Regions from separate parts of the Homo sapiens genome. Here region 2 is linked to region 1. The links come from fine-mapping of genetic effects on gene expression. A gene starts in region 1. The other region holds a variant in brackets. All regions are shown on one strand. Distances are between the middles of the regions. Region 1 holds the start of CORO1A-AS1 (CORO1A antisense RNA 1). Region 2 has its middle 9.1 kb from the start of MAPK3.

Evidence for each region. PIP is the estimated chance that this variant, and not a neighbour inherited with it, causes the effect.
Region 2: its variant is the best candidate, but not a certain one, in a credible set for the expression of CORO1A-AS1 in whole blood (TOPMed, PIP 0.85).

Annotation. Positions count from the first base shown.
Region 1 is chr16:30,182,045-30,187,409 of GRCh38, reverse strand. CORO1A-AS1 (CORO1A antisense RNA 1) reads left to right here and starts at 2,622. Exons shown (of 2, transcript NR_186359.1): 1 at 2,622-2,906; 2 at 3,639-4,017. CORO1A (coronin 1A) reads right to left here and starts at 3,808. Exons shown (of 11, transcript NM_007074.4): 1 at 3,685-3,808; 2 at 2,003-2,201; 3 at 690-812; 4 at 465-594; 5 at 187-371; 6 at 1-28. The coding sequence starts at 2,200. RefSeq lists enhancers at 1-102, 1-281, 282-822, 846-995, 1,326-1,475 and 5 more and silencers at 1,906-2,005, 3,376-3,485, 3,516-3,975, 4,116-4,225.
Region 2 is chr16:30,129,594-30,134,958 of GRCh38, reverse strand. No RefSeq gene overlaps it. Among named protein-coding and RNA genes, the nearest start is that of MAPK3, 9.1 kb to the right of the region's middle. The variant C/G (reference allele first, on the strand shown) is at 2,864.

The sequences.
Region 1 (5,365 bases):
GGGTCCCCTCGTGGGGACGGTCCTTCTCCTGCAAGGAAAGGGAGGTGGTAGGTCAGGCACCCGTACATACCCTACGGGGCCAGTCCCAGGTGGAGGCGAGGGAGGGCAGCATCCAAGGGCCTGGCTGATGGTGGATAAGAAGGATAAAGGCTGTAGGGTCAAAGGTCAGGGTAGATGGCGACTCACAGCTACGACAGTGCCTTTGCGGGGCTCGATGATGCGCACGCGCTTGTCACGGCAGGAGGTACAAATGAGGCCTCCATCTCGGCTCCAGTCCACACTGTAGATCGTGTCTGGGTGCACCTCTGGGCCCAGTGTCAGCATGGCCGCCCCAGTGCCCACGTCCCACACCATGATCACGTTGTCACAACCTGCACGTTCCCCACAGTGTCAGAAGCCATGAGCCTCCTGCCCTCATCCACTGCAGGCCACGAGCCACCCCCAAGCCCCTCCTCCCGCAGCACCTGCACTGAGCAGCACGTTCTGGGCTGTGGTGTGCCAGGCCACAATGCCCACACGCTTGGTGTGGCCCTCCAGGGTGACGACGGGCTCCCGCAGGGGCAGCATCAGGCCCCCATCTGGGATCTCCCACACCTGCAGAGGAGGGGCCAGTGAGTCTTCAGGACTCCAAATGTCAGATCCCATCCTAGAGCCCCTCTCCCAGCCCCTGGGTCCCCACCACCACTCACCATGACTGTGCAGTCCTCGGAGCCACTGGCAATGACGTTGTCATTGTGCGGGCACCAGGCGATGTCTAGCACAGGGGCTGTGTGGCCACAGACCGTGGGCGCATTCTTGTCCACACGTCCAGTCTAAAGGCACAGCAGGGCCTTGGAGGTGCTTTTGCCTCCCAAACCCAATCCAACCTCCCCACACCTCCTTCAGAGAGGCCCAGAGAGGAAAGCTGTGGTGTCCCTGGGAGCTGGACCAGGGCCTGGGGTGGGGACGGGGGCGGGTTGTTCTTCTCTTGTTCCAGTCCCAAAATGGCCTGGGCAAACCCCAGGAGGGCTGGCCACGCATGGCAGAGGTTGGGGGCCGTGCAAGACCCTGGCAGAGTTCCCGCCGGTCTCTGTCTCAGTCTGTCTCTGCCCTTAGGGTTGGCACCCCCACCCCAGCTTCCCCGAGTGAGGCTTCCATGGGCACAACTGGCCCTGGAGCCAGGACAGGTGTATGGGGGCTGGGGGGGTGGAGGCAGCTCCCCAGAGAGCGAGTGTGAGTGGTGGGGCTGCAGGGGTGGGTCCTCCCAAAAGGAGAGGGGCCAGGGAGCCTGTCCCAACTGGCCCCAGGCAGGAGCAGAGGTTTGGAAATGGCTTCTTCCGGGGACAGCTGCTTCAGCAGGGCTTCCTGTGTGACAGCCATGTGGGGCGCGGGCCCAGCTCTCACCCCGACAACCACTTCCTCTTCTCTTTGCTTCCATCAGCCCTTTTAAGGTAACAACTTGGGGCCCATCTCCCCTTCCTGTCTTACCCCCCAAAGAGCACAGGAGTGTGCTGGGGGTGCGGGGCAGCAGCCAGCCAGCGGAGGGGGCAGCAGGCTCCAGGGGAGGGCAGGGCTGCGGGTGGGGGAGAGCACCTCTTGCATCATCCCTGCCTGCGAGCTGGGGGACAGAGTTGCTAGGTCCTCAGACAGGCCCAGAGCCAGAGTCCCTCCCAACCCTGAGAACGCTGCCAGGGCCCCCAGACCCCATCCCAACCCCCTCTGTGTTTCCATGGGGAGAAAGCCCCAGGCTGAGGCTCAGGAGGGCTGATCATGGGTCTGCAGGACTGTCTGTAGTCCTGGTCACTGGTGTGACCCATCTTGTGTTGGCTCCTTCTGAGCGTCAGTTTCCACACAGCCACAGCACAGAGGAGCTGGAGGAAGTGTAAGGCTCATGGGGCCCAGCTCAGTTTTCCAGATGGCAACACAGGCCCTGGAAGGCCTGGTGACCGTCACCTAATCAGGACCTGCACAGAGCCATGGGTCCGGTGGAGGAGCTGCTCCCCCCAGGGCCCCAGGGGCTCACCTTGCCCAGGGGCAGCACCAGGAAGGCCCCTCCCCCGCTGGCCTCACAGATCAGGGCCACAAACTTAGGGTTGACAGCACAGAAGCCACTGTCCCAGGTGGTCTGTGAGACGCGCACATCTTCATAGCACTGGTCGGCCTTGGCCGGCTGTCCAAACACGTGGCGGAACTTGCTGGAGCGGACCACCTGCCGGCTCATTCTGGGGGCACACAGCATAAGAGCATTTCTCCCTTCAGGTCAACTCTGATCTTCCAGTGGTCCCCACCTCCCCCAGGACACCCCTCAGTCTGGCTTTTAAGGTCCCAGCATCATCTCCAGGGGCTCCCTATTCTTCCCTCTGTGGCTGATGCCTGCTTGCCTTCCCCAGCCTCTCCTTCCCTCTAACCTGCAAGCCCCCTTCTCCCTGGCCCCAGGCCACTCTGAGCCACCCTCTCAATCTGTACCCTCAGCCTCTGCAACAGAGCCTGGCGTGGTGTTGCCCCACTGCATGTTTGTTGACTGACTGGCTGATGGATGCAGAGCCCGTCCTTCCTAATGGTTCAGACTCAGGCGTCATCAGCCCAGATGGCTCCGAGGGTGGGTTCTCTCTTAGTTACCGTGTCCAGAGCCCACCTCCCTCACACCCACACAGCGCTTCCTAAAGGCAGGGACAGGAGCTGGCCTCCCTCGCCTGCTGGCATGGGGCTGGACACAGGAGGAAGTGGCGTGGGGGCTGCCTGAGGGGAGTGAGGCGGCAGGATAGCTTCCCCAGCAGGTCTCTGGCTCAGGTCCAGGTATCTCCTCCTCCCCATACCTCTGCCTCTCGCCTCCGCTCAGAAAAGCAGGTGCCCTTAAGAGCCATCTCCACCCCCATGTAAACTGCACACAGGAAGGGAGAGGCCACTCCGACTGCTCTGAGGTCCAGGTAGGATGGTTTCCCCCAGTGTCTGGGTGGGGAGCAAGGAACTCCAGGGGCGACCTTGTGCCACCGCATCACCTTCCTGCTCAGGGAAGGGGCCTGTGCTGCCGCTTGGAGGGTGCCATGCCCAGAGCCTCTGCCCCTAGCCTCAGCCTCGCCTACTCACTGGGGGCTCCAGCACCCCCGGCCACCCCAGGACTCCCGAAGAGGCTGCTAGGTCGGCCTGCCCAAAGAGCGGTGAGGAGCGTATGTGAAGAGCCCCAGTCTTGAGGAGCAGCCTGTATCTGGAGAGAGGGGAGCCCCGGACCAGAGGTGGGGGACAGGAAGCCATCGCCCCACCCTGCCTCCTCCCCCACCACAGGTACCAGGCCCGGAAACCACGGAAAGGGGAACTTGGTCTTTTCTTGTTTTGCTCTCAACCCCTTCCTGTCTCCAAGCCCAGGGCAGCTGCCCCGCTCACCCCACCCTGCCCTCGTCCCCACCCTCCCCGAGACTCAATTCCGTGGGGAGTCGGGCCCTCGACACTGTGCTGACCCCCGGCCACCCACCTCCATCTTGGCCGCGGTGGTCCCTAGCCCTCGCCTCCGCAGAGCGCTCTGGGGCCCCGGCGGCCCCCACTCCAAGCAGCGTCCCCCCACGGGCTGCTGCGCCCGCTACCTGGCCCCGGCGCTGGCTGGGTCGCGGTGACAGCCGCGCGCCCCCGCAGCCCGCGGCTCCCACGCGCGCGCCGCCCCACAGGTGGCCCTCGCCCCGGCCCACCCGCGCCTCCCAGGCCCAGCCTCACCTGCTGCCGAGAGAGGACAGTGATCCCCCAAAAGCCGGAGGTGGAGGAGGAGGAGGAAGAGGAGGAAGGAGCTGGAGGAGCCGGGGACTCGCCCGCTGAAGATGCTCTTGTCAAGACAATGAATGAGAAGCAGCCGTGCGCCCGCCTCCGGGGTGGCCGCGCCCCTTGGGGCGGAGCTCTTCCAGGCCCGCCCTGCGCTCCCGGGCTCCCGCTGCGGCCGCCTCTCTCCCCGGCCCCTGCCCGTGCACCACGTTGGTCCCCAACCATAGCGCAGGCTGCCATCCCGGCTCCGGGAAGCGAATCTAAACTTCTTTTTAAAATGTCAAAACGCAAGAGCACCCCATTGCTTCTTTCCTCCCTGCGTCCGCCCCCAGCCTCCTCGCCAGCCTTTCCCTGGCAGGCACGAAAGCGCCCCAGGCCCGCCCGCCAGGCCTCGGTGCCCGCCCCGGCCCGGCTGCGCCGCCCCTTCCTCCCGGCCCCGCAGACGCGAGCGCAGGGGGCGCGGGGGGCGCGGGGGGCGCGAGGGGCGCGGGGGGCGCGGGCGAGGAGGAGCCCCGAGCGCGCTCCTGGACCCCCGGGACCTGGCTCTTGCCTGGCTCTGAGATCTAAGCATGGGTGGCCCCGGGAGTCGCTTCTCCTCCCTGGATCTCCTGGCTTCATCGGGAACACCCCTGCCCTCCTGCTGAAATAATCCGGCATCACGGGCACCTACTTCGTGCCAGGGGCTACAGGGTCGAGCAAGGCAGGCAAGCCAGGCAGGTTTCCGCCCCTGAAGAGCCCAGCCTGGGGGAAGGAGGAGGAGCCCACGGCCGCTCCAAGCCCTGGCTTTGGCGAAGGCTCGAGGGCAAGGAGGAATAGTTCCCACCCTTGGATTCAGAGAGGCTTCTGGAGGCAGCAACAGCGGGCAGGAAAGGCCTGCTCTAGAGTCAGACTATGTCATGAGTGCGACCGCAGCCTGTCACCTGCTGAGTGAGGTGTGGCCGCTACTTAGCCTTTCTCAGCCTCGGTTTCTCCCTCTGTAACAGTCATACCTGCCACGTAAGAGGTATGGGGATGATTACCTAAAATAACCCAAGGAAGTCAGTAAGGACCTCATCTAGAAAGTGGCGGGTGCTTAATAAACGTTAGCTCTCAGCCATGCGTAGTGACTCACGCCTGTAATCCCAGCACTTTGGGAGGCCAAGGCTGGCGGATCACCTGAGGTCAGGAGTTCGAGACCAGCCTGGCCAACATGGTAAAACCGCATCTCTACTAAAAATACAAAAATTAGCGTGGTGTAGTGATGCACCCCTGTAATCCCAGCTACTGAGGAGGCTAAGGCATGAGAATAGCTTGAACCCTGGAGGCAGAGGCTGCAGTGAGCCAAGATTGAGCCACTGTTATCACCCAGTCTTCTCTGGGTGAAAGAGCAAGACCGTCTCATTTTAAAAAAAGTTAGCTCTCATCATTCTTGTTTAAAAAGTATCTGGGCTGGGCCTGAAAGGATTAGGAAGAGCCAACAGGCAAGGCTAGAGGGGTGACCTGTAGGCTGAGGGACAGCCCTGTCGTGTGGAGAAGTTCAAGGAACAGCAAGGGACGGGTTCAAGTCCCACCTCTGCCACTGACTGGCTGTGCGATCTTGGCCAAGAGGGCTAATCTCTCTGAACCTCATTTTGTCATTGGTAAATGGGGAATTAATAAG
Region 2 (5,365 bases), 52 kb after region 1:
AAAGCTGAGGGATGTGGTTTAGAACTGTGTGCCCACCCAAATCTCATGTCGTATTGCAATCCCCAGTGTTGGAGGTAGGGCCTGGTGGGAGGTGATTGGATCATGGGGGTGGGGTTTCTCATGAATGGTTTAGCGCCATCCCTTTGGTGCTGTTCTCTTGACAGTGAGTGAGTACTCAAGAGATCTGGTTGTTTAAAAGTGTGTGAAGGCGGGTCGCAGTGGCTCACACCTGTAATCCCAGCACTTTGGGAGGCCGAGGTGGGTAGATCACTTGAGGCCAGGAGTTCGAGACCAGCCTGGGCAACATGGTGAAACGCCCGTCTCTACTAAAAATACAAAAATTAGGCCAGATGTGGTGGCTCACGCCTGTAATCCCAGCTATTTAGGAGGCCGAGGCAGGTGGATCACCTGAGGTCAGGAGTTCGAGACCAGCTTGACCAACATGGAGAAACCCCATCTCTACTAAAAATACAAAATTAGCCAGGCGAGGTGGCGCATGCCTGTAATCCCAGCTACTAGGGAGGCTGAGGCAGGAGAATTGCTTGAACCCAGGAGGCGGAGGTTGCAGTGAGCCGAGATGGCACCATTGCACTCCAGCCTAGGCAACGAGAGCGAAACTCCATCTAAAAAAAAAAAAAAAAAAATTGGCCAGGCACGGTGGCTCGCGCCTGTAATCCTAGCCCTTTGGGAGGCCGAGGCGGGCAGATCACCTGAGATCAAGAGTTCGATACCAGCCTGACCAACATGGAGAAACCCCGTCTCTACTAAAAATACAAAATTAGCCGGATGTGGTGGCGCATGCCTGTAATCCCAGCTACTTGGCAGCTGAGGTGGGAGAATCGCTTGAACCTGGGAGATGGAGGTTGCGGTGAGCCAAGATGGTGCCATTGCACTCTAGCCTGAGCAACGGGAGCAAAACTCTGTCTAAAAAAAAAAAAAAAAAAAAAAAAAGCCAGTGGTGGCGCATGCCTGTAGTCCCAACTACTCAGGAGGCTGAGGCAAAAGAATCACTTGAATCCAAGAGATGGAGGCTGCAGTGAGCTGAGGTAGTGCCACTGCACTCCAGCCTGGGTGACAAAGTGAGATTCCATCTCAAAATAAATGAATAAAAATAAAATAAGTAAAGTGTGTGGCGCCTCTTCCCTTGCTCTCTTGCTCCTGCTCCTGCCATGTGACATGCCTGTTCTCCCTTCACCTTCTGCCATGATTGTAAGTTTCCTGAGGCCTCCCCAGAAGCCAAGCAGATGCCAGCATCATGTTCCCTGTACAACCTGCAGAACCATGAGCCAATTAAACCTCTTGCCTTTATAAATTATCCAGGCTTAGGTATTTATAGCAATACAAGAATGGATTAATACACTGGGGGACATCAAAGCTCTAAGATGACAGTGCCGGAGCTCTGAGGATCTTTTCCCCAGCAAAACAAGCAAAGCTGGTGAAAACCATTTAAAAATAAATAAACACTTAAAGTTTCTGGAATTATCCTAATGTCATATAACAGATGAATAAACATTTAATTTTATTTTTTATTGAGATGGAGTCTTGCTCTGTTGCCCAGGCTGGAGTGCAGTGGTGCAATCTTGGCTCACTTTCTTATTCAAGAAAATCTACTAAAACTCAGTAAGAACAGGGAGAATCTGTGGCATTGAATTTTATTACTTTTATTATTATTATTTTGTAGAGATGGGGTTTCACTATGTTGCACAAGCTGGTCTCAAATTCCTGGGCTCAAGCTATCCTGCCACCTCGGCCTCCCAAAGTGCTGGGATTATAAGCATTGTTATCGGTGAAAGGTTATCCAAGTTACCGGTGACAAATCTGTACGGGTCTGCAGCAACCTCAATTCTTGCCTCCACAGAAGAAAGAACCACAGGGCATAAGGCAGAAAAAGAGACCAAGGGAAGTTTCAGAGCAGGAGTGGAAGTTTATTTTAAATGGCTTTAGAATGGGAAAGAAAGGTAAGTACATTTGGAAGAGACTCAAGTGGGCACCAAGGTCAAGCGTGGTGTTCAACCTTGATCCTAGGACTTTATAGGCTGGCTCCTTTCCCATGATTCTTCCCTTAGGATGGGCTGCCTGCATGCACAGTGGCCTCCTTACCCTGGGAAGGTGAGCATGCACAGTGTGTGTAGGAAGTTGTATGCATGCCTATCTGAGGTTTTCTTCCCTTTTCCGGTGGTCTGACCCCGGAAGGTCATGCTCCATCATTTTGTCTCTTTCTTTTTTGTTTGTTTGTTTTTTTTTTGAGACAGTTTCACTCTTGTTTCCCAGGCTGGAGTGTAGTGGCCTGATCTCAGCTCACTGCAACCTCCACCTCCTGGGTTCAAGCAATTCTCCTCCTTCAGTCTCCTGAGTAGGTGGGATATCAGGCACCCAACACCACGCTTGGCTAATTTTGTATTTTTAGTAGAGATGGGGGTTTCACCACATTGGCCAGACTGGTCTTGAACTCCTGACCTCAGGTGATCCGCTCGCCTCAGTCTCCCAAATTGCTGGGATTACAGGTGTGAGCCACCGTGCCCAGACTATTTTGTCTCTTAATGCACATGTCCAGGAAATTGCTTCTCCCTGGTGTCTGCATTCAATTAACACTCTAACATAACAGCTGTGGACCATCAGGAGCTTGTCTCTCTCTCTGGCGCTGGCTGCCAAATTATTTAGAGAGGCAATGTGATCATTGTTGAACCATCACTTGACATTCCTGGTGGGTGGGGAAGAGCCCTCTCCAGCCCTGCTCATGCCTGTTTAACTACCTGTAACATTATGAGCCACTGTGCCAGGCCATCTGTGGCATTTAAGCCAGGAGGACCAACTATCTCCTGACTGCCCTCCCCCCACAGTTCAGCTGGAAGGAAACTGCTCT[C/G]TGAGTAGATGTGGCCAAGAAGACAAGCTCCCTCTCCCCTCAGCTGCCAATCAAGGCTTACCATATCTCACCAGGAGGAGCATGCTGCCACCAGTTTTCATCCCCTCCAACTCCAAATTGAAGAGGCTACATTTCTGGTGAACGTGGTAAAGAAGTAGGGCACTCTTCTCCTCCACCCAGCACTCGCCCACACCATAGAATGAAGGCTGTACCATCAGTGACAGTCCAAGAATACTGGGACCATAATCACACTCCTCCCAGCTTGCTTGTGGAACAGAGATCCCATGCCAGGAGGGGCAAGCCACGAAAACCAGAGGCTACTGCTCCACCAGTGTCCAAAATAGGGTCTCAGAGGCTTTGCCCAGTGGGACAGACAGTTCATAAAAAAAGAGACCCCAAGGGCCAGGCATGGTGGCTCACACCTGTAATCCCAACCCTTGGGAGGCCGAGGCAGGTGGATCACCTGAGGTCAGGAGTTCGAGACCAGCCTGGCCAACATAGTGAAACTCCACTCTACCAAAAATACAAAAATTAGGCTGGGCACAGCGGTTCACACCTGTAATCCCAGCACTTTGGGAGGCCAAGGTGGATGGATCACCTGAGGTCAGGAGTTCGTGACCAGCCTGGCCAACATGGTGAAACCCTGCCTCTACTAAAAATAAAAAATTAGCCAGGTGTGGTGGCATGTGCCTGTAATCCTAGCTACTGAGGCAGGAGAATCGCTTGAACCAGGGAAGCAGAGTTTGCAGTGAGCCACGATCACGCCACTGCACTCTAGCCTGGGGGACAGAGTGAGACTCCATCTCAAAAAATTTAAAAAAAAAAATACAAATATTAGCTGGGCATGGTGGCGCACACCTGTAGTCCTGGCTACTCAGGAGGCTGAGGCAGGAGAATTGCTTGAACCCGGGAGGCAGAGGTTGCAGTGAGTTGAGATTGTGCCATTGCACTCAGCCTGGGCAACAAAAGTGAAACTCCATCTCAAAATAAATAAATTAGATAAATAAATAAATAAACAAACAAGACAAAAAGAGACTCTTGGCAGCAGCAAGAGAAAAACAACTCATCGCGTACAAGGAAACTCCAATGAGATTGACAGTTGATTTCTCATCAGAAACAACGGAAGCCAGCAGGTGGTGGGATGACACATTCAAAGTTGATTCTTGTCTCTGTGGTGGTTATATTCCCCAAAGTCACCACAAACAATGAATTAGAGAATACTGAACATTGCTTCTAGCGGAAATACATGGTGAAGTTCCTGCCAGCCTCTGATCACCACACTTTTGTCAACCAATCAGTCCACAGCTGTGTGTTACATGTGATTCTGTTTTGGGTTTTGTTTGTTTTTTGTAGGTCTTGCTCTATCGCTCAGGCTGAAGTGCAGTGGCACAATCACAGCTCACTGCAGCCTTGAACTCCTAGGCTCATGCCAGGCGCGGTGGCTCACGCCTGTAATACCAGCACTTTGGGAGGCCAAAGCAGGCGGATCATGAGGTCAGGAGACCGAGACCATCCTGGCTAACACGGTGAAACCCCGTCTCTACTACAAATACAAAACATTAGCCGGGCGTGGTGGCAGGCGTCTGTAATCCCAGCTACTCGGGAGACTGAGGCAGGAGAATAGCGTGAACCTGGGAGGTGGAGCTTGCAGTGAGCTGAGAGATCTTACCACTGCACTCCAGCCTGGGCGACAGAGCGAGATTCTGTCTCAAAAAAACAAAACAAAACAAAAATCCTAGGCTCAAGGAATTCTCCTGCCTCAGTCCTGTAGCTGGGACTACAGACGCGCATCACCACTGCGCCTGGCCCCCACATCTATCTTTTCAGACTGGTTTGGGACTACAGGCACACACCACCAGGGGTGGTGTATGTGTGCCTGTAGTCCTAGCTACTCAGGAGGCTGAGGTGGGAGGATCACTTAAACCCAAGAGTTCGAGGCTGCAGTGAGCTATGATCAGGCCACTGCACTCCAGCCTAGGTGACAGAACAAGATCCTGTCTCTAAAAAAGATAAAATAAAAAATAAGGCCAGGCGCGGTGGCTCGCGGTGGCTGGCTGTAATCCCAGCACTTTGGGAGGCTGAGGTGGGCGGATCACAAGGTCAGGAGTTCGAGATCGGCCTGGACAACATGGTGAAACCCCGTCTAGGAAACTAGTCTTCCCAGCTAATTTTGTATTTTTAGTAGAGACAGGGTTTCACCACATTGGTAAGACTGGTCTTGAACTCCTGACTTCAAGTAATCCACCCCTCTTTGGCCTCCCAAAGTGCTGGGATTATGGGTGTGAGCCACCATGCCCACCCCATAATTACTTTTGCACCAACAAAATATAAGAGGGCTTCAAAGGGAAGACACCAGCATAATGGCCTTCAAGATATTGTACGATCTAGCCGGGCGCAGTGGCTCACGCCTGTAATCCCAGCACTTTGGGAGGCTGAAGCGGGAGGATCAGCTGAGGTCGGGAGTTCAAGAACAGCCTGACCAACGTGAAGAAACCCCGTCTC